Linked DNA regions of Homo sapiens. The protein of the gene in region 1 purifies or fractionates together with the protein of each later gene. This does not show direct contact. Each region holds a gene or a part of one and is shown on either strand. Other genes may lie near its edges. The genes, in order: SLC25A46, NCEH1, MTCH1, MTFR1, MTARC2, MTX2 and PLD6.

The links.
Region 2: the proteins of SLC25A46 (region 1) and NCEH1 purify together in Homo sapiens (affinity purification with mass spectrometry; one large-scale study listed by BioGRID and IntAct). This does not show direct contact.
Region 3: the proteins of SLC25A46 (region 1) and MTCH1 purify together in Homo sapiens (affinity purification with mass spectrometry, with the first as the bait; one large-scale study listed by BioGRID). This does not show direct contact.
Region 4: the proteins of SLC25A46 (region 1) and MTFR1 purify together in Homo sapiens (affinity purification with mass spectrometry, with the first as the bait; one large-scale study listed by BioGRID). This does not show direct contact.
Region 5: the proteins of SLC25A46 (region 1) and MTARC2 purify together in Homo sapiens (affinity purification with mass spectrometry, with the first as the bait; one large-scale study listed by BioGRID). This does not show direct contact.
Region 6: the proteins of SLC25A46 (region 1) and MTX2 purify together in Homo sapiens (affinity purification with mass spectrometry, with the first as the bait; one large-scale study listed by BioGRID). This does not show direct contact.
Region 7: the proteins of SLC25A46 (region 1) and PLD6 purify together in Homo sapiens (affinity purification with mass spectrometry, with the first as the bait; one large-scale study listed by BioGRID). This does not show direct contact.

Annotation. Positions count from the first base shown.
Region 1 is NC_000005.10:110,742,007-110,745,506, forward strand, and holds part of SLC25A46 (mitochondrial outer membrane protein SLC25A46), read left to right. Parts: intron 1-40; coding exon 41-83; intron 84-1,723; coding exon 1,724-1,781; intron 1,782-3,500. UniProt on the Homo sapiens protein: Transmembrane protein of the mitochondrial outer membrane that controls mitochondrial organization.
Region 2 is NC_000003.12:172,634,568-172,638,067, forward strand, and holds part of NCEH1 (neutral cholesterol ester hydrolase 1), read right to left. Parts: intron 1,521-3,500; coding exon 1,349-1,520; intron 1-1,348.
Region 3 is NC_000006.12:36,972,697-36,976,196, forward strand, and holds part of MTCH1 (mitochondrial carrier homolog 1), read right to left. Parts: intron 3,022-3,500; coding exon 2,962-3,021; intron 101-2,961; coding exon 1-100.
Region 4 is NC_000008.11:65,651,234-65,654,733, reverse strand, and holds part of MTFR1 (mitochondrial fission regulator 1 isoform 1 precursor), read right to left. Parts: intron 1-3,500. UniProt on the Homo sapiens protein: May play a role in mitochondrial aerobic respiration. May also regulate mitochondrial organization and fission.
Region 5 is NC_000001.11:220,754,822-220,758,321, forward strand, and holds part of MTARC2 (mitochondrial amidoxime reducing component 2 isoform a precursor), read left to right. Parts: intron 1-125; coding exon 126-299; intron 300-309; exon of another isoform or gene 310-405; intron 406-3,500. UniProt on the Homo sapiens protein: Catalyzes the reduction of N-oxygenated molecules, acting as a counterpart of cytochrome P450 and flavin-containing monooxygenases in metabolic cycles.
Region 6 is NC_000002.12:176,267,985-176,272,241, reverse strand, and holds the start of MTX2 (metaxin-2), read right to left. Parts: upstream 2,801-4,257; 5' UTR 2,613-2,800; coding exon 2,573-2,612; intron 2,029-2,572; exon of another isoform or gene 1,833-2,028; coding exon of another isoform or gene 1,823-1,832; intron 1-1,822. UniProt on the Homo sapiens protein: Involved in transport of proteins into the mitochondrion.
Region 7 is NC_000017.11:17,200,495-17,203,333, forward strand, and holds the end of PLD6 (mitochondrial cardiolipin hydrolase), read right to left. Parts: intron 2,605-2,839; coding exon 2,273-2,604; coding exon of another isoform or gene 2,257-2,272; 3' UTR 501-2,256; downstream 1-500. UniProt on the Homo sapiens protein: Presents phospholipase and nuclease activities, depending on the different physiological conditions. Interaction with Mitoguardin (MIGA1 or MIGA2) affects the dimer conformation, facilitating the lipase activity over the nuclease activity.

The DNA.
Region 1 (3,500 bases):
AGTAATCTTATTTTTTTATTTCTATTTTTTTTTACTTTAGAACAGCTGAATAGATTTGCTGGATTTGGTATTGGACTTGCAAGGTAATGTTTTATCTAAAGACGTTTACAGCTTTTATTTATTGAATTTAGAGTTTTTCTTTAATTTACAATATTAAATGATTATTATTGCTTCCTTTAGGTTGTTTCTTTGAAGCAGCAGCTTAAATTTTGAATAATATTTTGCAGAAAAAAAATGACCATTATTTAAAATATATAATTTGATAGTTTTTCCAGTAAGGATAGACTAGTCATCCAATTTTATAAACACAAAGTAATTTTGTAATGAGTATTGTAACTGTTTTCATGGGTCTATCCAAAAAATAAAATGAAGTGTAATCTTATCTCTCTCCCATCAAAATAATAATTTAGAATGGGGTTCATGAAGATCAAATGGCTCTGCTGATAAGAACTTTTTTCATAGGACATTTTCTGAAAGAAAAATTACATGGCATTTAATGATGCCATGTAACTGACGTGTCATTTCCCACATCAAACATACAGTGATCTAGTTTCATTTTATACCGTAGATATTAATATTGTGTATTATATATTGTTTCCCTTACTTACCTGTTTGCAGATCTGGTTTTCATTCTTTTCATGGGTCTATCCAAAGAATAAAATGAAATGTAATCTGTCTGTCTCCCATCAAAAAAGTAATTGTGCATGGAGGCTTCTTTCTAAACACTCTAATGCTTACAAGATATTTAGCAACATAGCATCTAGATTTTGTTCATAATCAGCGTTTGGTGATAGCATTACTTTTTTTTATATCTAACGATCATTTTAAGAAAATCCTTTAGTCTTGATTATTGTGATCCTTAGTGAATACCATTTTCAAAAATATTGGAATTGCACAAAGCTTACATTTCATGCCATAATGATCATTATTTTAAACATTTTAACGAAGAAAAACACCTTATTTGCATAATTAAACCCGAGGGTGTTAATGTCAATATAAATAAAATCTGTGTTTTCCATTCTGCTGGAGTTGTTTTTTGCTTCAATATTTATACTTAAAGCTTTGATTCATTTGATAGACTATTATTACATATAAATATGTGTGCACATGTATGTATATGTCACTCTGAGACCTGAAACCCACAGCTGTAATTGTTTTGTGGGGCACATTCTCAAAATAAATATTTGATACATAAATATTAGTCAATTAACATGGTCATTAAGAATCTTATAATTTAAGATTTATACTTAAATTTATACTTAAACCTTATAATTTAAGTGCACCAAAACCAAACATTTTTAGAATGGGGTTCATGAAGATCAAATGACTCTGCTGATAGGAATTCTGTTATTAGGACATTTTCTGAAAGAAATAATTTGCAGCATTAAATGCCATTTAATTGATGTGCCATTTCCCACATTAAACATTCAGAGATCTAGTTTCATCTTATACTATAGACATTAATATTATGTATTATGTATTGTTTCCCTTATTTACTAGTATGCAGATCTGGTTTTCATTCTTTTCATATTGAATTTCGTTATGGGTAGAATCATTTGCAAACATTTCTAGACATTTTTAAAGATCTATTTAATTTGTTTAAGAATGGAAAACATAAAATAATGCATGATTCTTCAGGCAAGAATAATTTCAGAAAGATACCTGTTGTAAATTTAATTTATCTCTATGTAGACATACATATACATAAATTATTTTTATATAGTCTCTTTACAGAAAATGTATTGGCACATCCTTGCATTGTTCTACGCCGCCAATGTCAGGTAAATGTAATTTCTGTGATCTTTTGAAGCAATACTTCTGACCCTAATATGAAGGGCAGAACTCACATAAATGACATGAAACCAGGTAATTGTTACTTCATGTGAAATGTTCCAAACTTTTTGGTCTCAAAACCTCTTTAAAGTCTTAAAAAAATATTGAGGATCCTAAATAACTTTGGTTTATGTTGGTCATATCTATTGATAGTTACCATTTCAGAAATTAAAATTGGGAAAATTTCAATGCATCTATATAATTCATTAAAATAATAACACCTGTTAGTAAGATAATATGTTTTTATGAAAGTAACTATTTTGCATTTTTGCAAATATCTTTAATATCTGACATAATAGGAGAGAGCCAGTTTCTCTCGTATGCTTCTGCAGTCAATCTGTTGCATCACGTGGTTTTTGAAAGAAGCAAGGAAGTTTAGTCTTGTACACATGTATAGTTGAAAGCAGGAGAGGAGTATATTATATTCTTTTGAGATAATTGTGGGTATTCTTTGCAATTGCACCAAAACTCACTGTGTCGCAGTTTCTTAAAGGTTATTTGCAATGTGAAATCAGAAATCATTTTAGTGAACTTTTTATACTTTGTTACATTAAAAAATCCATTTAACTATACTGCATCTTGAATAGATATTTTTACTTATGCCTGATTCCATGTAATTGTGCATAAGTTATTTGAAAAATATTGACCAATTGAGTTACATAGATCTTCCTGTTGTTAAAACATTTGATTATAAAATATCAAAAAATCATCTTCATTAAAAATACTACTGATCTCACTAGAAAAGTCTATAAGTATTGTCAGCTCTTGACGATGCATATAGATTTTCCAAAATTCTGAGTTTTAGTTGAAAATTCAAACTTATCATTGACAGTAAATACTGTTATTTATTTTTGTTTTAATCAACAATCTCACTTTGTTTATTTTTTAAAATATGTCTGTCCTGAAAGTGAATAGGTATAGTCCGTCAATGAGTTTTTCTAAGTAAAAATGATGTTCCGTGAAAAAAGTGGCTAGTTTAGCTTGCAGTTCTATCATACAAGTGCTTTCCTCATGACAGCAATCTTACTTCCTTATGTAACACACAGGATATTAATTAGAAAGAGGATGTGTACTCAAAGGTCAAGGATTCATAAAATTAACATTTTGTTACTTCATTGTCAAGGATATTACTATATGAAGGTTGCTTTTTTCTCTCTATGGGTAAATGAGGTGAAAAATTACTGTAAGTACGAAAATACAGTTTGATGGTGCTGCCTCAATTTGTGCTAATGAGCTGGGAGTTTTACCTACCATTGCTTTTGTACCATTAGTGAAAATGTCAAGACAGTGAAAAAAGGAAATTATATCTTAGTAATCACTAGGAAAATAATTTTGAACTTGTCAAGCCCCTGAAAGGGTAATGGGGCCCTCAGGAGTCAGTGGACCCCACTTGCAAACTCTGTTATAACCCACTTTTTTTTTTTGTTTGTTTGAGACGGAGTCTCGCTCTGTTGCCCAAACTGGAGTGCAGTGGCATGATCTCGGCTCACTGCAAACTCCGCCTCCTGGGTTCACGCCATTCTCCTGCCTCAGCCTCCCGAGTAGCTGGGACTACAGGAGCCCGCCACCGTGCCCAGCTAATTTTTTGTATTTTTAGTAGAGACGGGGTTTCATCGTGTTAGCCAGGATGGTCTCGATCTCCTGACCTCATGATCCGCCCGCCTCAG
Region 2 (3,500 bases), on another chromosome or scaffold:
GGTGAGCATCTTCACGCTTGGTGAGACAGAATTTAAATAGTTCTGGCAATGCACCCTCCATTCTACATAATGAGCATATGCCAGAGTGAAGTTGTCATGGGAATGTGAATGAATCCCCTACCTCAACAGATCTCAGTCCCCCAACACCTCCCCACAGTGTTAACATTGCCCCATTTTGTAATTCTAGTGTGCAAAATTATATATTTGTCGTGTAACATCTAAAAGAAAGCTAACTAGTCATGAAGCTTCATAGACAACTAAATGATCTTCAAGGTAACTTTAGCCATACACTTCTGCTTCATACTTGGACTTTAGAAACCCATTCCCAGGTGAGATATGACTGCTCTCCAAAAGCAAGAATGGTCAGTAAATAGCACTTTGAATATGTGCCAAAAATTGTATACACATCACCTCACTAAGTCCTTGCAACAGCCCTGCAATCAGATGACACTGTCCTCGTTTTTCTGAGGCTCAGAGAGGTTAAGGGACTTATCCAGGGCCCCGCAGCACTCAACGGTGGGTCCTGGGTTAGATCCCAGTGCTGTCTGGCTTCAAAGCCAAGAATGTTCTCTCCACTGAGCCAAGACTCTCTTCTGACCATATTTGGATGGAAAACTTGCCAATGCCAAATGGAAAATCAAGTTCTTGAATTATAGCAAAAGAGTTAGAAGCCAAGGTACATCATAATTAGAATGACAGATGGTATTTGAGGACACCAAATGAAATTTGGAGGTGAGAAGACAAAGATGTCTTAAGTTACTTCATCCATAACAGGAAGAAAATGTGCTTTTTCCCACTTGCCAAAAAAATTGGGGTGCTATTAGAAGCTAGATATAGTTTTCAAAGAATTAAACCAGGTAAAGCTCATAGTAACTTGTAAGATAATATTTAAATGGCTGAATCGTTTAATTTCTTTCTTTTACATTAAAAAAAAGTTGGGGAAACAAATTTTAAGGTTTTAATTTGGCTCAAAGTTGTAAGGAACAATCTTAGGAACTGGAATTTAAGCAAAAATACTCCGATTTGCAAGTCAAACATGAAAAAGGAGCAGGGGATACTGGAGTTCCATACATAGCCCTGAGAAGCAAGGGATGTCAGCCCTTCTCTAACACTGACTGTAATCAGGGACTTTACAAAGACTCATAGGTGATACTTCCTCCAATGACTCATCTTCCTACTTCAACGAGATCTCTGAGAGCTCTACAAGTGTAATCACATGAACAATTTGGCCATCTAGTGACCGGCCCACCCAGCTATGCATTTGCCACACATAATGGAGGGTGTGTTGGTCTGCTAGACCTTGTCATGCACCGCTTAACCCACCAGCACCTTAGGACAGTGGTGTTACCTGTTGTCCAAGGGCAGCAGCCAGATTTCCACCAGCACTGTCACCAGAAATGCAAATTCTGCCTGGATCAACCATATACTTCTGTAAGACTTCTGGCTTCAGGAAATACTTTGTGGCCCGTACAACATCATGAATTTGCTCAGGAAAATAAACCTTTGGAACTAGCCTGTATCTGTAAAAACAAAAGTTGTATTCATTTAAGGCCTTCTCCAATTTTGGGGGACATTTAAAGTTTAGATGGAAACTGGTTCTTTTAAATCTGGAAATAGATAAGAAATTAATTCAATGGAATTATTGTATGAAAAAGAAAAAATAATAAAATATAAAAATAAACCATTTTCTTGCAAATCAAATACTTAGTTTAAAATGTGATGATTTTGTATTAGTAATAGTACTATTTTTCTTTAAACTATCAGCCACCAAACCAAACCTACTTACCACCAAGAACAACCAAAATAAAACTAACAAGTAAAAGGCGAATGTTCATTACAAAGACATGGATAGCACCGTAATAGATTTTAGAATTTTATTTCTGGAAGTCAGCATTCCATTCATAATGCCTCTGGGTTACGAGGTGACTTGGCAGGATTAACCACTTCATTGATCTCACATTTAATGAGTCCATCATTTACTTCATATAATAAAACTGTACTTCACTGGAGAGGTCCATATTAGCCTGACATTAAACCCAAGAAATGCATTCAATACCTGGAAGACTGTAACTAAAAGGCCGGTTGTTAACTCACAAAAGGGAAGCTAAGTTTTCCAGACGGCCTAGAGCAGGCCCTCGGGGATACTTCTGGGGCTTCTCCAACTGGCCCCACTTCGCAAGATCAGAGTCCTTTGGAATCCTACTCTGTACACCTAGTAGAATTCATATCCCCTTAAGATTCCCAGAAAGCTCTGGTTTTGTCAAATGCCTCACCCATAGTGTTATCTTACACATCTACATTGGCAATCTTGGTTTAGAGTTCCCTCTCACTCTCTACTCCCCTCTTTTGCTTATTAATTCTCACTCATCCTTTAAGCCTTAACTGGAGGGTTTGGCCTCCTCTGGGCAGCCTTCCTTGGTCATATCTCCACTTGCTTTTGGGCTTGAACTGGCTACCATTCCTTGATATTTCTATGTGCCAGGGTACGTCACTCACTGTTCTTATTGGCTCATATGAAAATTATCATATGTTTTTCCTAAAGATTGTGTTCTCTGATATCAGGAACTGTGTTTTATTCATAACTGTGCTTCCAGTATCTGCCAATGTGAGGGGCACATAATCATCCATCCAATAAATCTTTTTTGAGTATTAACATACCTTCATTTTGCAAACGAAGAAACTAAGGCATACAAAAGTTACTTGATTTGCAAAAACTCAAAAACAGACCAAAATTAGGTAGGATAAAAACTAATTACCTAATTAAAAATTAATAACAGCCAATGAAGACTCAAGACTTTTGATTTCCATCTTATAATTAGCATACTTATTTTCACAAACTAATTTTTTCTAAGCTACTCTAAATAAAGACATTTATTTTCCACAGTCTAAAATCCAGCTAGTTGGGCTGAGAGCGGTGGCTCACACCTGTAATCCCAGCACTTTGGGAGGCTGAGGCAGGTGGATCACTTGAGATCAGGAATTCAAGACCAGCCTGGCCAACATGGTGAAACCCCATCTCTACTAAAAATACAAAAAAAGGGCCAGGTGCGGTGGCTTAGGTCTGTAATCCCAGCACTTTGGGAGGCAGAGGCAGTCAGATCACCTGAGGTCAGGAGTTCGAGACCAGCCTGACCAACATGGTGAAAACCCGTTTCTACTAAAAATACAAAAATTAGCCAGGCACGGTCGTGGGCGCCTGTAATCCCAACTACTCAGGAGGCTGAGGCAGGAAAATCACTTGAACCCAGGAGGCGGAGGTTGCAGTGAGCCGAGATGGTGCCACTGCACTCCAGCCTGGGTGACAGAGCAAGACTCCATCTCAAAAAAAAAATAGCCGGGCATGGTGGTATGCACCTGTAATCCCAGCTAGTTGGGAGGCTGAGGCCTGAGAATCACTTGAACCCAGGAAGTGGAAGTTGCAGTGAGCTGAGATCGAAAGAACAAGACCTGGGCGAAAGAGCAAGACCCTGTCTCAAAATAAAATCCTGCTAGGTAATTAA
Region 3 (3,500 bases), on another chromosome or scaffold:
ACTCACGCTGTCATCCACCAGGTAGGCATTGATGAAGTGGGCCAGCAGGTTACAGCCCCACAAGAAAACCACATCGCCCAGGAGGTGAGGGATTAATCCACTAAAAAACAAGGTAAGCAGAGATGAGCAGGAGAGGGAGAGGAGCAGTTCCTGGGGGCTCCACACCCAGGAAGCAGGCAGGGATGTTCCGAGCTCAAAATCTTAGCATATCCAATGGCACAGCCTTAGAAAGGAGGCCTGCAGGGTCCAGCAGCTATGCACACTGGGAAGATAGTGCTCCTTTTCCCATGGGGAGGTGTTCTATGCCGCTTTGGATGCCATAAATTAGCTAATAGTCTCAAGCAGTTTTCAAACCACAGAAGCCAGGGATCAAGATGTGAATACTGCCAAATTTGGAATTTCCAAATGCAGATAATAAGAGTGCCGACGTGTTGGTAATTTTCTCCTGGCCTCTTTACCTAACCAACTCTCAGAAGACACACTGCTCAATGCATCTGTTCTCTTTGCCCCTGAAAATATTCTATCAAAAAGATTCTATGCAAGCATTTACAAGGAGGGCTAACTTTTTAAGTGATGGCCTTTAGGATAAACAGCTCTATAAACTGCTAAGGAAGGTTCCCCAAGATGCAGTGCTGAGGGCAAAAGGCCAGTTTGAGGTCAGTGAGTCCCATGTGCCTCTTGTGTTTTTTACAATGTGTTTGCTTGTTTAGGTACAGAGTGCCCTGGGAGGCTCGCCAGGAGAAGGATGGCTGTCTCCTGGGAGGAGAAGCAGAATTTTTGTTTTTGAATTAAAAAAAAAAATCTTATATTTGAAAAACTCAAAAGAATATATGTAATACATCTATGAAGAGTATTAATAAAAGGAACCTCTGTGAATGCAATTTCTAATCTTGTCGTCCCTGCCTGTGCTCAGATTGACTTTGTGCTATACCCTTTGGTGCTTTCTATGCACTGTAACATGTATGAGTATCACCTGTTCCAAAATCACATGGGGAGAAAGAACCCAAAGAGTAGGCATCTGTTGTGCGGGAATCCTATTCAAACACCAGAAGAGAACTACGCAGTGTGAAAAATGCCAGAGGTGGTCATGTGCAGTGTTTCAAGATGGGTGGCTGTTTCTGTAGAGCAGCCATTGGCTGGGGTCCCGGGGCTGCCCCTTTGGCAGGGCACATGGTCCCTGAGGGCCACAGATGCCCTGCACTTTGTCACCTCACATCCAACTTACTTCACCTCTAAAGAAAGCACATACTGAAAAGACTATGTTCAGAAAGAATAAAGCACAGACAGAACCCAGAAGCCAGGCTTGATGAGTTGTTTTTTGACTTGCTGTTTTAAGGTCTAGGCGGTGACATACATGCTGATAGGTATGTCACAAATGTTGGTTTGTTACCAGGTACATGTGCAAATATATGTATGTATAAATACTTACACATACATATATGTGTGTGTGTGAATATAAATCAGAGTTTCTCAACCTTGGCACTATTGACATTTTGGGCTGAATAATTTTTTTTTTCCCCAAGAGACAGGGTCTCACTCTATCACCCAGGCTGGAGTGCAGTGGTGCAATCATAGCTCACTGCAGTCTCCAACTCCTGGGCTCAAGCCATCCTCCCACCTCAGCCTCCCGGGTAGCTAGGACTACAGGTGCATGCCGCCACGGCCAACTAATTTTTAAAAACATTTTTGTAGAGACAGAAGTCTCACTATGTTGCTCAGGCTGGTCTTGAACTCCTGGCCTCAAGTAATCCTCCCGCCTTGGTCTCCTGACAGCTGCAGAAACCACTGAGACTAATCCCAACTAACTGGGATCACAGATGCAAGCAACGACACCTGACTGAATAAGTCTTTGTTGCGGGGCTGTCCTGTGTACTGTAGGATGTTTAGCAGCGTCTCTGGCCTCTACCCACTAGATGCCAGTTGTGACAACCACAAGATGTCTCCGGACACTGCCGATGTTCCCCGGGGAGCAAAATCACCTCCTGCTGAGAACCGTATATATATTTCTATATCATATACACACACATGCACCTACAAGTAGTCACTAATTGGTTAAACAAGGGGCCATAAATAAAAAACATCTCACAAACCGGAAAACCATGATATAAAGACTTCTTATGAATAATATGGAGCCCTGTATCTAGTACAGCGGATACTGTTGTATACCATGTGTCTACCACGTTTGTGACATACTTATCAGCATGTATGTCACTGCCTAGACCTTAAAACGGCAAATCAAAATACAACTCATCAAGCCTGGCTTCTGTCTGCACCTTATTCTTTCTGAACTTAGTCTTTTCAGTATGTGCTTTCTTTAGAGGTGAAGTACACTGGATGTGACGTGACGAAGTACAGGGTGTCTGCGGCCCTCGGAGACCATGTGCCCTGCCAAAGAAGCAGGTCCTGGGTCCTGGCCGATGGATGCTCTACAGAAAGAACCGCTCAGCAGGACAAGATTTTCTGGCTTTTCAAGAGATGCCAGACATGTGGATTTTTGTGCAACATATCTTAAATGTTAACGGCAACAACTAATTTGTCAGAAAAGCAATGTCAAACAGAATCCACTGGCTGTGGTCAGCCTGTGAGCTTCCAGAGCTCCACCCTCAGTCCAAGTCAGATTTTCAGTCATGTTTTAGCAGTGAGGCCAAGGACTATGCAGTGACTTAGCTCATGAAGACCAGCCCCACACCCACCACAACTGGATGAGGCCCAGTGGGGCTGGTCAGTTCATCTCCCCCATGTACTAGACACACAGTTCCACTTTTACATGAGCCATGGCCTGAAAAGGGCTAAGCAGCTTGGACACGCTATGGAGCTCTGGAGAGCTGGCTGCAGCACTCAGGCTAGGGCAGGGCCATGTAGTGAAGTCCCAGGCCAGCAGCTGCGGTCTGAGAGGTTGAGGACACACCTGTTAGCAGAGCCATGCCCGTGGCCAGTTATGGGGTGTATAAACTCACGTACACGAAGAATCCCAGCAGCCCTTCCTCTTTGAAAATCTTCCCAATGGAGCTCAGCACACCACTGTGAAGAAGGCAAGACAGAGATACAGGGTCATGCAGTCACCTACCAGAAGCCCACCCGTTGGTGTGGGGCTGAGCCCACCAGTTCTGCTCAAATCCAGCCAGTCCTGGCAGGGATGGGGAGGACTATTACCATGAAGAACCAAGTAGAAAGGCAAAGAGCGCTTGTTCAGGGTGAGGAGGAGTTTACACAGTTCATGGAGACTGGGGAAGCCCAACCACCCATGGGAGCAGCCCACTAGCAGTCCTCTACTGGTGTTTTCTGGGAGATAGGAGTTTAGGAATGCATCTCCTAACTTGGGCCACTGCTGCAGAGGCGGCAGGCCCTTCTCTTACCCGGCCCTCACACTTATCTCTGGTTAAACAACCCTCTAGCAGAGGAGCCCACAGGCCCGCCCAAGAGTAAGAGTAGGAGGGGGTAGTAAGCAAAGAGAAGTACTTTCCCAGAGGGCAGAGAAAGAATACAGGGCCCTGCAGGAG
Region 4 (3,500 bases), on another chromosome or scaffold:
CAGTGGTATGCACCTGTAGTCCTAGCTACTCAGGAGGCTGAGGCAGAAGGATCGCTTGAGCCCAGGAATTTGAGGTTACAATGAGCTATCAGTGCGCCACTGTACTCCACTCTGGGTAACAGAGTGAAACTGTCTCAAACACAACACAACACACAAAAAAATTGCTTTAATGGAAGAACTCAGTAAATTATACCTTTCTCCAAGGAGAAAGATGTTTAGTTTTTGAAAGCTGGCAAGGGTATTCACTGAAACATTACTGTGAAAGAGAAAATCCAAAGGTAATCTAAATGACCATCAATAGGGAAATGGTTAAAATTAATTCAATAAATTAAATATGCCCATTCTAAGTTTACAGCCATTAAAACAAAAAAGATAGAGCCATACATGAAACAATTTTCATAATAAAATGCTGAATGAAAAAAGTTACAAATACATATTAATTCCATTAAAAATAACTAAAAAACAATAAAGTAACAGAAACAGTGGTGAAATAGAGGAAAGATCTGAAAACTTACCAAAACTTAACACTTACTATATCTGAGGGCTTGGTGGTGAGACCCTCCACTTTTATTATACACTTATGCACTCCTGTATTGTTTGTATGTTTTCTTTCCCCCCAATAGGATACATGTACTACTTTTGTGATTTTCCTTTTTTTTTTTTTTTTTTGAGAGACAAAGTCTCACTCTGTCACCCAGGCTGGAGTGCAATGGCACCATCAGAGCTCACTGCAGCCCTAAGCTCCCGGGCTCAAGTGATCCTCCTGCTTCAGCCTCCCAAGTAGCTAGGACTATAGGCATATCATCACATCCAGCTAACTTTATACTTTTTTGTAGAGATGGGGTCTCACTATGTTGCCCAGGCTGGTCTCAAACTCCTGGCTTCAAGTGATTCTCCCACCTTAGCCTCCCAAATTGCTGGGATTACAGGCATGAGCCACCATACCCAGCCTACTTTTGTAATTTTTAAAGACTAGTAACATTTTCTAAATTAAATAACTGAAATCTAAAAAGTAAAAACATAAAAATTATTCTAATTTGGACCATCTAAGTAAATAATAAACATTAGCAATATATAAACTTTGGGAACCCTTACAGGCTATACTAGTATTTCTCAACTTCAAACCTTCATACTTGGTTTATGAGTTTTGTCATATCTGGATGCTCTTAATGTTTTAATTTAAATTAACTGTTTTTTTCTTTCTTTCTTATTTTTATTTTTTGAGACAGAGCCTTGCTCTGTTGCCCAGGCTGGAGTGCAGTGGCACGATAACAGCTAACTGCAACCTCCACCTCCCGGGGTCAAGCGATTCTTGGGCCTCAGCCTCCCGAGAAGCTGGGATTACAGGTGCAGACCACCACGCCCAGCTAATTTTTGTATTTTTTGTAGAGACGGAGTTTCACCACACTGGTCAGGCTGGTCTCGAACTGCCTGGTGATCGAGGTGATCCACCCACCTCGGCCTCCCAAAGTGCTGGGATTACAGGCGTGTGCCACTGTGCTCGATCTTAAATAAACTCATTTTTTAAAAATTAAATAAACTTAGCCTCATGCCAAGCAATAATACTGATGCAATCAAAGTTTGTTCCAGGATATACTTTAAAGTACTTAACTATACATTGTACTCCCTATCTGAGCCAAAACAGACAGAAAAGGATATCTTGACTAAAATAAATACAAAGTTGATTCTTGTTCCACCTAAAATCATCTCTTTAGGAAAGCAGTTTACCCTCCTGCCTGTACACATTATACACTTGTCCTTCAGTATCCACAGGGGATTGGTTCCAGGAATCCCATGGACACCAAAATCTACAGATGCTCAAGTGCCTTATATAAAATGGCATAGTAAAAAGTCCTAGCTAGAGCAATCAGGCAAGAGAAAGAAATAAAGGACATCCAAATAGGAAAGGAAGAAGTCAAATTATCCTTGTTTACAGATGATGTAATCTTGTATTTGGAAAAACCTAAAGACTCTACCAAAAAACTATTAGAACTGATAAATTCAGTAAAGTTACATGATGCAAAGTCAACATCCAAAACTCAGTAGCATTTCTATATGCCAACAGTGAACAATCTGAAAAACAAATCAATAAATTAATCCCATTTACAATAGCCACAAATAAAATTAAATACCTAGGAATTAACCAAAGTGAAATCAAAGTGAAAGATATCTACAATGAAAACTCAAAAGCAATTTAAGAGGGTCAGGGTGGTGGCTCATGCCTGTAATCCCAGCACCTTGGGAGGCCAAAGCAGGAGGATCACTTGAGCTCAGGAGTTTGAGACCAGCCTGGATAACATAGGGAGACCCACCTCTACAAAAAAACAAAAAATTAAGGGCTAGATATGATGGCTCACAGCTGTAATCCCAGCACTTTGGGAGGTGGAGGCAGAGGCAGGAGGATCACTTGAGGCCAGGAGTTTGAGACCAGCCTATATTTTTGTACTAAAAAATACAAAATTTGCCGGGTGTGGTAATGCACACCTGTAATCCCAGCTACTTGGGAGGTTGAGGTACGAGAGTTGCTTGAACCTGGGAGGCAGAGGTTGGAGTGAGCTGAGATAGCACCACTGCACCCCAGACTCCAGCCCGGGCGACAGAGTGGGACTTCGTCTCAAAAAAAAATTAGCCAGGCATGGTGGCATGTGCCTGTAGTCCCAACTACATGGGAGGCTGAGGCAGGAGGGCCTCCTGAGCCCATGAGCTGTGATCATGCCGCTGCACTCCGGCCTGGATGATAGAGCAAAACCTTGTCTGAAAAAAAAAAAAATTAAAGGGGGCACACACAAGGAAAAAATATTCCATGTTCATGAACTGGAAAAGTCAATATTGTTAAAAGGTCCATACCACCCAAAGCAATCTACAGATTCAATGAAATATCTATCAAAATGTCTATCAAAATATCAATGACATTCTTCACAGAAATAGAAAACATAATCCTAAAATTTATATGGAACCACAAAAGACCCAGGATAGCCAAAGCTATCCTGAGCAAAAAGAAAAAAACTGGACTTCAAATTATACTACAGGGCTATAGTAACCGAGACAACATGGTCGTAGCATAAAAACAGACACATAGACCAATGGAACAGAGTAGAGAACCCAGAAATCAATCCATAGGTCTACAGTAAACTCATTTTTAACAAAGGTGCCAAGAACATACATTGGGAAAAGACAGTCTCTTCAATAAATGGTGCTGGGAAAACTGGATATCCACATACCGAAGAATGAAACTACAACCCATCTCTTGCCATATACAAAAATCAAATCAAAATGGATTAAAGACTTAAATCTAAGACCTCAAACTATGAAACTACTGCAAGAAAACACTGGGGGAAACTCTCCAGGACATTGGTCTGGGCAATGATTTCTTGAATAGCACCCCACATGGGGTATTAGGCAATCAAAGCAAAAAAAGGACAAATGAGATCACATCAAGTCAAAAAGCTTCTGCATAGCAAATGAAATAATCAATAAACTGAAGAGACAACCCACAGAAC
Region 5 (3,500 bases), on another chromosome or scaffold:
GGAAAATGATTGTTAGGTCCCAAGACGGGGTGGGTGGAGAGTTCTGAGGAAGTAGAAAGCTGGAGGGAAGCTGTTGGGAGGTGGAAGAGGATTTTCTGAGTGTGCCCTGGTTTGTTTCTCTGCAGGTTTTGGCTGGTGATTAAGGAAGATGGACACATGGTCACTGCCCGACAGGAGCCTCGCCTCGTGCTCATCTCCATCATTTATGAGAATAACTGCCTGATCTTCAGGGCTCCAGACATGGACCAGCTGGTTTTGCCTAGCAAGCAGCCTTCCTCAAACAAACTCCACAACTGCAGGTGTTCCGCTTGGGGGCATCCACAGAACTGCAACAGGCTTGGTTTCTCTTCAGGCTCCTCCTTGCATTCTGTCTTGCTATAGTTTCTACAGTAGAGGATGACATTGGTAAAGGAAACATTTAAGAGAAGTGCAGTTTGAGTTGGGATTGGGCATGAGTGGATGATGCAGGGTATTGTTTTCAGGGTACCTAGGATTTGTTTTAATCAGGTATGGTTAGACACGCAGACATAGAAATGACTGTCCTGAAAAAAGAAGATGTTATACCAACAGATTCTCTAGAAACTGGAGGCACGCTACGCCACGCAAGGCCAAGTGGGGGAGTACCAGGGTGGGTCAGGAGGCAGAGGGAGCAGGGGGAACATGTGGGCAAGGGCTTTTATTGTGGTTTCCACAGGAAAGGAGAAGCAAGGCAGGGGCGGCAGGCTTAGGGCTGGCTAGTTTGAACAATTTCAGCAGGCTCTGGGTCACAGGTTGTCTGGTACTTGGCTCTAGGGTTGACTAGGGCATGGGACTAGTGGCCCGGCATGTAAGCACCAAATAAAGGAGGTGACTGGGAGTGCAGACTCTGGATGGGTTGGTGTTCCTATTACAGGCACACTTGCAGGTCATCAGTCTATTATTTCTAGGAATTGGTCAGCCCTGGAAGAAGCAGTTTCTTCAGTGTCAACAAGGCTCCAAGATGTCAAAGCGTAAAACATGCAGAAAATTAAAAGCAGGATTACTACAAGTATAAAGGTGGTACAATGTGCTCATCTTTAGGGCTTTTCTCCTTTCATTCAAATCTTCATTCAGAATTGTCAACTCTCCAACCAGGCAGACAAGGGAGTTAGTGGAGACTTTAGCAGCTGTATCTCAGGGCTGGGTGAGAAGGATGCTGGAGCTTCCAGAGCTTTTCAAGTTGACTCTGCGGCCTCTGAAGTGTGTGGTTGAGATGAAGACATATTCCTTGGGTGTAAGGGATTTCCACTTCTGGCCAAAGACACACCTCAGGCCTTGGCTTCCTTTTGGCCTATGGGACTTCTGTTGGGTTGTCAAGTTCCGTGGTTTGCTGGGGTCTTGTCCTTCCACATTAAGAAGACTTAGATGCTTGTCATGGGATGAACTGGATCCCTTGTCACCAACTGAGCTTGTTAAGTGTGTGGAAGTTGGTGTTGTCCCAGGGCTCAGAGGGGAGCCTCAGATTACTCCGTGAACTCTCATCTTACGCTTTTTCAAGCAAAGCGTCTAAGCTGAAATCCACAACTCATGGTTCCCAATTTTCAAAAGTCTGAAGCAATAATTCACTGAATTCAGTATTTCAGGTAATTATCTTAGCAAGCCCATGAGGGGGTCATTAATTCCACTTTACAAACGAGGAAACCACGTCTTAGATCACTGCCACGAAAACACAGAGCTGGGATTTGAACCCACTTCCCTCCTAAGGCTTTTGCCTTTAACGTGTTTGTGTAGGGAGAAGAAAAGCTTTTCCATAAATGACAGGTTTTGAGCCCATCAGTTCATTGAAGAGGAAGTGTGTAGCCATCTCGGCTTAATTGGAAGACATGTGAAGGTGATGGGTAAATACGTAGCTGACATGTGTCACATGAGTAATATAGGTGTTGCCCTGTAGACTCACTGTGTTGCCAACAGTGAGCAAGTTTTTCCCCCAAGGCTCTTTACCAGCTAAATAGGCAGAAATCTAGGGGGACACTCACCTTCCTGGATGGAAAGAGGGAAAGAGGAAGACCTTGCAGGTGAGTTGCCTGGGTCTGAAAAAGACAGCAATTGCAGCCTATTCTTTTTTATTTATTTATTTTTTGAGACGGAGTTTTGCTCTTGTTGCCCAGCCTGGAGTGCAATGGCACGATCTTGGCTCACTGCAACCTCCACCTCCCAGGTTCAAGCGATTCTCCTGCCCCAGCCTCCTGAGTAGCTGGGATTAGAGGCATGTGCCATGACGCCCAGCTAATTTTGTATTTTTAGTAGAAATGGGGTTTCACCATGTTGGCCAGGCTGGTTTCGAACTCCTGACCTCAGGTGATCCACCTGCCTTGGCCTCCCAGACTTCTGGGATTGCAGGCATGAGCCACCGTGCTCAGCCTGAAGCCTCTTCTTATGTAATTCTGTTCCATGCATGAATTGTAGATCTGGATGAGGTGGGAATAGAGAGCCTGGAACCCTGGCAGTTTGGTGAAAATGATTGAGAGCTGTGCATTTGGATTGATGCAGAGGTGTAGTCAGCGCACTGCCCTCTCTAGCTGGTTAGACATGCTGTAACTAGTTCAGCCTGTATTTATAAGCTATTTTTAATGGATTCGTTGCCAAGGGAACTGCTAAAAACTGAAGAAATAACATAGATAGTGTGTTTAGCTAGTGCCAGCTGCTGTGACAAAATACCATAGTCTGGGTGGCTTAAACAACTGACATTTATTTCTCATAGTTTGGGAGGATGGGAAGTCTAAGATCGAGGTGCTGGTAGATTGGTGAGGTCCCTTTTCAGGGCTGTAGATGGCCACTTCTCGTTATGTCCTCACATGACCTTCCCTGGTGCCTGCATGAAGAGAGAAAGCAATCTTGTGTTTCTTCCTCTTATAAGGGTGCCAATCCCAGCATGAGGGCTCCACCTCATCTAACCCTAATTACCTCCCATAGGCCCCACATTGGGGGTGAGGGTGTCAACAAAGGAATTCTGGGGAGACACAAACATTTAGCCCCTAACAGATGGTAAGCGACAGAGTGATTACCACAGCCAGCCCACCAGAGCCCAGAATCAAATAACATAAACCAACAACCTCAAGTTAGTAAAAAGAAAAGTCCCTTCACAGACATTTGGACAAGGCTGAAGTGTTATGAATTTTATATTATTCTACACTTATTTTATTTTATTATTATTATTATTTTTGAGATGGAGTCTCGCTCTGTCACCCGGGCTGGAGTGCAGTGGCGCGATCTCAACTCGCTGTAACCTCTGCCTCCTGGGTTCAAGTGATTCTCCTGCCTCAGCCTCCTGAGTAGCTGGGACTACAGGCGCACGCCACCACGCCCAGCTAATTTTTGTATTTTTAGCAGAGACGGGATTTCACCATGTTGGCTACCATGGTCTCGATCTCCTGACCTTGTGATCCACCCGCCTCGGCTTCCCAAAGTGCAGGGATTACAGGCATGAGCCACCACGCCCGGCCACTTATTTTTTTTAAACTTTCACTGTTAGTGTTTTGAAT
Region 6 (4,257 bases), on another chromosome or scaffold:
AGCCTCTGGTAACCACCTTTCTATTCTGTTTCTAGGAGATCAACTTTCTTAGATTTCCCCAAAAAGATTAGATTTTAGATCACTACTTGTCTTTCTATGTCTAGCTTATTTCATTTAGCATAATGTCCTCCAGATCCATCCATTTTATCACAAATGATAGGGTTTCCTTCTTTTTTAAGGCTGAATAGTATTCCATTGTATCTTATATACATTTTCTTTATCCATTCATCCACTGATAAACACCTGGGTTGCTTCCATATCTTGGCTATTGTGAATACTGCTGCAATGAACATGGGACTGCACATACCTCTTAGACAATTTCAATTCCTTTGGATACATGCCCAGAAGTGGAATTGGTGGATTGGTGTACAATAATTTGACATATATTTAAAACATTTCTAGTTTTTCGCTATTACAAATAATGCTGCAATTAATATCATTGTGTATTTCTTTAAGTACTGGTCTTTACATTTCTATCAGATAAACCCCCATAAGTAGAATTTTCAGGCCAGAGAATGTCATTTTAATAAATATTGCTACATTACGTTCCCAAAAAGTAATACTAACTTACAGACCCAATAGTTTGAGAGTAACTTTTCCCCATGCCCTATTAGTACTAGAAATCATATTCACTTTTGTCCATCTGATGGCAGGGGTGGGAGGATGCTATACATTATTAGGGACAGAGAACATCTTTTCATCTGTTCACTGTCCATCTATATTTCACCCTTTTGTGAAATGCCTGTTCCAATCCTTTGTCCTTGATTCTGTTGGTTTGTCTTCTTATTTGTACTAACTTGAGATGTCTTTTATCAAAGTTTTAAAATTTTTTCGGCAATCAAATCTGCCAATTTCTTCTCTTATGGATTATGAATTCTTAAGTTTTGCTTAGGCCTCTTCTGCTATCCAAGGATTATTAAAATAATCTATGTTTTCCTCTAATTATTTTATTACAATTTTGTTGTTTTATATTTAGATCTTTAATCAATCTGGAATTTATTCATGTGGTGTAATGACTTAGTAGTTGTTCCAACACCATTTATTGAATTATCCATTTTTAAATGCTTCCTCCTAGAGTAACAGATCACTACAAATAGCTAAGACGGCAGACAGACAAAATGCCTAGAAATTTTTAAACGTCACTACTTAAAGCAGTATCCAAAGTTTATTAAAAGACATTCATCATTTTCTCATTAAAAGAAATCACATATTAGGACACATGCACACAGTGAACCACTCAACATACACTGTGAAGTTTTTTTTTTCAACATAGTAGCAAACTAAATTAAATCGCTGATCTAACTATATAAGCCTGATTTTGTTTCAACATAAATGGTAAAAGCAGAAATAATCATTGCTTGAAATCTCAAGATTAGTCATTGATTTGGGTCGCAAATATTTATTGAGCACCAACTGACTATGGATACAATGGGGAACAAAACAAGTTTGATCCCTACTTTCAGGAAGCTTGCAATCTAGTAGGAGCTTCTCTCCTCTAAAAAATAATGTTTTTAAGTGAAGAAGGAAAAAAAAGAAATGTACGTTCACACAAACGCAAAGCAGTGAAAAACATTCCGGCAAATTTTATGACACATTCTGTACTTCCCATTTCCAAAATACTATCTTATTACTTCAAATGTACCTATTTATTGTGGTGACTGTCTTCATTACTGTACTCATGTTGAAAACACTGCTAGGGAGTTATGACTAATTCCATTAGCCTCTATCTCAAAGTACCTATGTTTAGTCTCCTCACTTTCTCAACAATATTTAATTTCTTTCATTACAATAAATAAAAACCTCAATAAGAGAAATTACAAACCTATATACATCAGTCATGTTCAGTCCACCGACTCAAAAGTATTTCTTTAAAGTACATGCAGATTTAAAAATTTTCCATGAATCCGCGCGGGCGTGGTGGCGGGCGCCTGTAATCCCAACTACTCGGGAGGCTAAGGCAGGAGAATCGCTTGAACCCGGGAAGCGGAGGTTGCAGTGAGCCCAGGTTGTGCCACTGCACTCCAGCCTCGGTGACAAAAGAGAAACTCCGTCTCAACAAATAAATAAATAAATAACTCCTAGAGTCTTAGCAAATGGCACTACTGTGTCGCTGGGAGACGAAGCAAGAAGTCTGGTGTTCCCTCAACAATAGGTAACAACTGATTAGTGACAGTCACCTTAAACTTTTTGAGTACCAAGACCCAGAAACTGCCACCACTCTTAGACTGAAGCGTTCAGATGCTTGCCCCTGTGGTAACGCCCCCCACCTCAATCCCAATCCAAGGCCTCCCCCTCATACTCCAGCACCTCCCAACTGAATGGGGAGGTGGGACAAAGTACCGCCCAAGGGAAGGAGACGGGACTCCTGCTCCTGCGGGGTGACCTTGGCCAAGTGTCTCCTTCTCAGTTTTCCCATATGTGAGATAAGGTTGGTAGTCCGTGCCCGCCTCCACCATCCGGGCCGGGTTCAGCGTATAATGCCGCAAGGCTGGAGGAAAGCTCCAGCCCTGTACCCCACGCGGCTCCCCGAGACCGCGCCGCCACCTTCTGGGTCTGCGGCCAGCCGCGCTACCTGCAATCTGGGAGACGAAGGCTTCCGCCACTAGAGACATGTCGGCTGGGAGGCCCGGCGCCCGGGTGCCTGCCCCCCACGGGCCTCAGCGTCCTCCACCGCAAACCCGGAGGCTCTCGGCAGTTAACGAGCCTAGCCCCGCCAACGTTCAGACTCGCAAAGCCCACTCCAACAGCAGCGGCGGCTGCAGTGAGGCCCCCAAGGTTACCGCCAGGCCTGGCTAGGGACTTCCGGCGCAGCCGACAACGGCACTCGAGCGCTTCCGCCGGCCCCGCCCCCGCGCCGTCCTACGGGGCGCCGGCGCGGCTAGCTCCGTCCAGCCAATTCCAGGCTCTGCGCTGGGGGCCCGCAGGTGGAAGCGAAGTACCCGACTCGTCTCCCACCCAGGGGACTGGCAGGGGAATCTGGGAGATTTTTAGCGTCCTTTCTGTAAGCCAGAATTTTGTAACCGAGTAACATTTGTAAACGCCCACTGGATACCAGGCACTTATATACCTATATCTACACACACATATATACATATATACACACACACATACACACATATATAATATATACACGTATATATGTACACATGTACATATATACACATATATACATATATATACACATATATTCTATTTGACTTCGTCTTCTCAACAACCCATTAAAGTAATAATATTATCGCCATTTTACGGATAAGAATATAGGCTTAAGGAGTTTAAACTGCCTGCCCAGGCAGTCCTCCAAGGACCAGATTCAAGGCTGCATGAATTCCCTCTATTCCATTATATTGCTGGGTTGATTAGTCCGTGGATAGACATTAGTGTTTTTTGTTGTTGTTGTTTATTCAAACATGCTTGGCAGAAAGGAGGCTTGAGCAGCGCCTAAGCCAGAAGGTAATTTGTCCTTCAACTCCATACACCCGAAATGATGCTCAGCTTGGAGAATAAGATACTTTAGTTTCACACACTTCTCACCTTTCGGGGGTGAACGGGGCAGGAAGAGGAGAAACTAAATTCCCTGAGTAACTTTGTCTTAACCTAATAGCTTCTTAAATTACACAATTAAAGAAAAATCATATGCATTACAGATTGGTGGTATTACAAGTGGGACAGGCTTCAGAGCTGGTAACCCAAAGCCCCCTTCACTGATGAGAAACAAGTTCAGAGAGGTGAGGTAACTCATTTTAAATCACACAGTAAATCAAAAAGTCAGACAGCTTACTAGGTTTTTGCAGAGGAAACCTGTATTCTAAGAATTACTGTCCATGACATTTAGAAAGCTATATTTCCATTCTTTATATCCGTAGATCTCTATTACTGTTCATTCTGCCTCCTTAACTAGCGTGGTTGGTTTCCTAGAGCTGCCAGATTACCACAAACTGGTTGGCTAAACAACAGAAATTCATTCTCACAATTCTGGAGGCTAGAAGTCTGAAATCAAGGTGTCAGCAGGGCCATGCTGTCTTGCAAGGCTCCAGAGAAGGGGGTTGCCGGCAATCTTCCATGTACTTTGGCTTGTAGATACATCACTCCAATCTCTGCCACCACATCACACGGCATTCCCCCTGTGTGTCAATGTGTTCAAATTTCTCTCTTCTTGAGAAATAACACCAGTCATTGTGTTAGGGACCCCCACCCTAATCCAGCAGGACCTCATCTTAACATGATTTCTTTTCTTTTCTTTTCTTTTTTTTTTTTTTT
Region 7 (2,839 bases), on another chromosome or scaffold:
TCTTGCTGCATTTTGTTACAGCCCACAGTGCATTGCAATCTTAGTCTGCTTAGGGGCTCTTCAAGTATTTGACTTATGACCTAAGTAGCTAGGCCAGCTGGTAGGAAGAGACAAAGCGAGCTATTTTGCAGGCCAGTAAACTTTCATTTTAAACTTTTTTGGTTCGGGTGAGGGCAACCAAGGAAGGGGGAAGGGGGCAGGCGGGGAAGCCGATAAGGCATCGGCTAGCCTGAGGGGCCTAGTACAACCCGTTTCTTCCGTAGTTTGCTGACCGAAGCCGATTCAAGGCACTTTGTCTTAAAAATGGACCACCGTATACCTTATTTCCTTCACCCAAATAACAGCTTAAAGTTTTACTCCTCTTTGAGTCTCCTGTTCTTTGACCAACAGTTTCTAAATAGCTGTATACTGCCCCCCCCCGCAAAATTATATTTAACAAAGAGGAGCCCCTACTTGAATGATTTAGCAGCAAGCTAAGGCAAAGACACCCAGCGCTCACATTCCAGAATAAGAACATGTTTATTCAGATGTGCCAGAAGTCCAGGGTCACGCGGCTTCGCATTTAGGAGATGCTTTACAAGCTCTCCCATTTTCTTTTCAGAACATACACTGGGGGAATTCACAAACTAAAACAATTTCTGGTGACTTCCAATCTATATATTATACTTTACAGCTTCAATTGAATTTTTTTAAAAGTTAACTTCCAAGCTGGCTTGCCTAACACTGTGAGTCAAAAGTAACCCTAAAAAGGAAAAACACACAGCACTGAAGGGTCTCTGGGTGGTAATGCCAGCGTGGGCTGGGGAGGTGAGACTAAGCACATGGCTAGCAGACCTCAGGATGGGCCCTGGGGCTCATCATACAGAAATATGACAAGATGATGAAGTCACAACTTCAGATGTCATCGGAGCTATCTGTATATGACACACACATTATAAACAAATAACCTGGAACATTTCACAGTGTACGACACCTGTTCTACCTGGGAATGCAAACCCTGAGCTGCAAATAAGAACACAGACGTGGGAGACACCACGGCCTGAAGCTGCTCTCCTCTTCCCCGCTCTCCTCTCCTCCGGTCCCGTGATGGGTTACGCTGAGCCAGCAATGTGCACGCACTAACTCCACAGGTGTTAAAGGTAAGGTCACTTCTAAACACACAACAAAATTACCTTAACATTAGGACATTAAAAGTTAAAAGCCCGGCCGGGCATGGCGGCTCACACCTGTAATCCCAGCACTTTGGGAGGCGGAAGTGGTGGATCACTTGAGGTCAGGAGTTTGAGACCAGCCTAACCAACATGGTGAAACCCTGTCTCTACTAAAAATACCAAAAAAAAAATCAGCCAGGTGTTGTGGCAGGCACCTGTAATCCCAGCTACTCGGGAGGCTGAGGCAGGACAATCGTTTGAACCCAGGAGGCAGAGGATGCAGTGAGCCGAGGTTGTGCCACTGCACTCCAGCCTGGGCCACAGAGTGAGACTCCATCTCAAAAAAGATAAATAAATAAATAAATAAAATAAAAAAAGTTAAAAGCCCAACATAGAAACAGCTGCTGGCCATCAGTCCTGACAGACCACAGCACTTACTACCCAAGGACAGGCTGCTGAAGAGCTTGGCACTGGCGTGCATACTGGTTTTAAAGAGCAATTATGCAAGGAATCAAGGGAACAGCCAGCCTTTGGTGGCAATGACGCTCACGGGGTTGCCCCGAAGGCTGCTTTTGCCACCCGCACCGCACACTCACATCTTCCCTTCCTCCTGACTTCCATTTCCTTTCCTTACTCTGAGGACCGAGCCCTGACAGGGGCAGACTGTGAGGGACAAGGAGACTGTAGGCCCCAACCAACCCCAGTCGTGCCACATGGAGAGAGGGATGAAATCTCAGGGAGATGCTGAAAGGGCCCACATCAGCCAAAGCAGGAGGGACTTTTCTAGAATCAGGGAAGGGAATGGGATCGACCTGGAAGAGGCACTGTGCCTTTTCTGTGCTGTAGCAGAAGTTTCGATTCCAAACCAAGATACGGACCACACTCATGAAAGCACCCCGTGGCAGGTCGTGACTGAAGTTATTTTGGCAAAGGAGCAAGAAAAAGGTCTGGCCCGAAATAACTGACCCGAAGTAACAGAAATTTCCCTTTCCTAACCTTCTTTAGTTCAATTTAGTATTCTAATAGACGAGACTTTAGTTTAACGATTTTTTTCTAGTGCCGAGGTCTCCCTCCCTCAGAACGCACAGCAGCCCGCAGGGAGGGCTCAGCCCCATTCTTGGTTAGGTTTGGCTTTCGCTGGAGGTGCCGCAAGTTCTGTGCCATGAAAGCAATCTCCCTCCAGCTCTGGAGACAGGTGGGGCACAGCTTCCGTGACTTTTCTTTGGTGGGAAAAAGGTATACTTTGTAGGGTTAAACTGTTCCCAGATGCGCTCAAATTCTTCCAGAAAAAGCCGCACGTACTCGTCGTCCTCCGTGATGAGAACATTCTCCCTGTTGTTCTGGATGGCTTGCGTGGTCCAGTTGAGCGAGCCAGTGATGAGCACCCTCTTGTCCACGATGGCAAACTTGTGATGCATGTAGCCTGGGTCTTGATCGTGCCGGACCTGGATCCCTGCAGAAAGGACAAGGTGATTTCATTCCATGCAGGAGTCCCGCCCCCAGTGTGGACTGTTCCTGGGGGCTACTGGCTTTACTATATGTTTCCAGTTTGGTGGGCCAGGAAAGCCCGCCATGCTTTCACAGAGTGGTGGCGGCTAAGCTCCCAGGAGGGACGCTGAGAACCACAGAGGGGACATCACACACAGGGCCAGAGCGTCACACACAGGCTATGGGGGACTGGGCAGGCC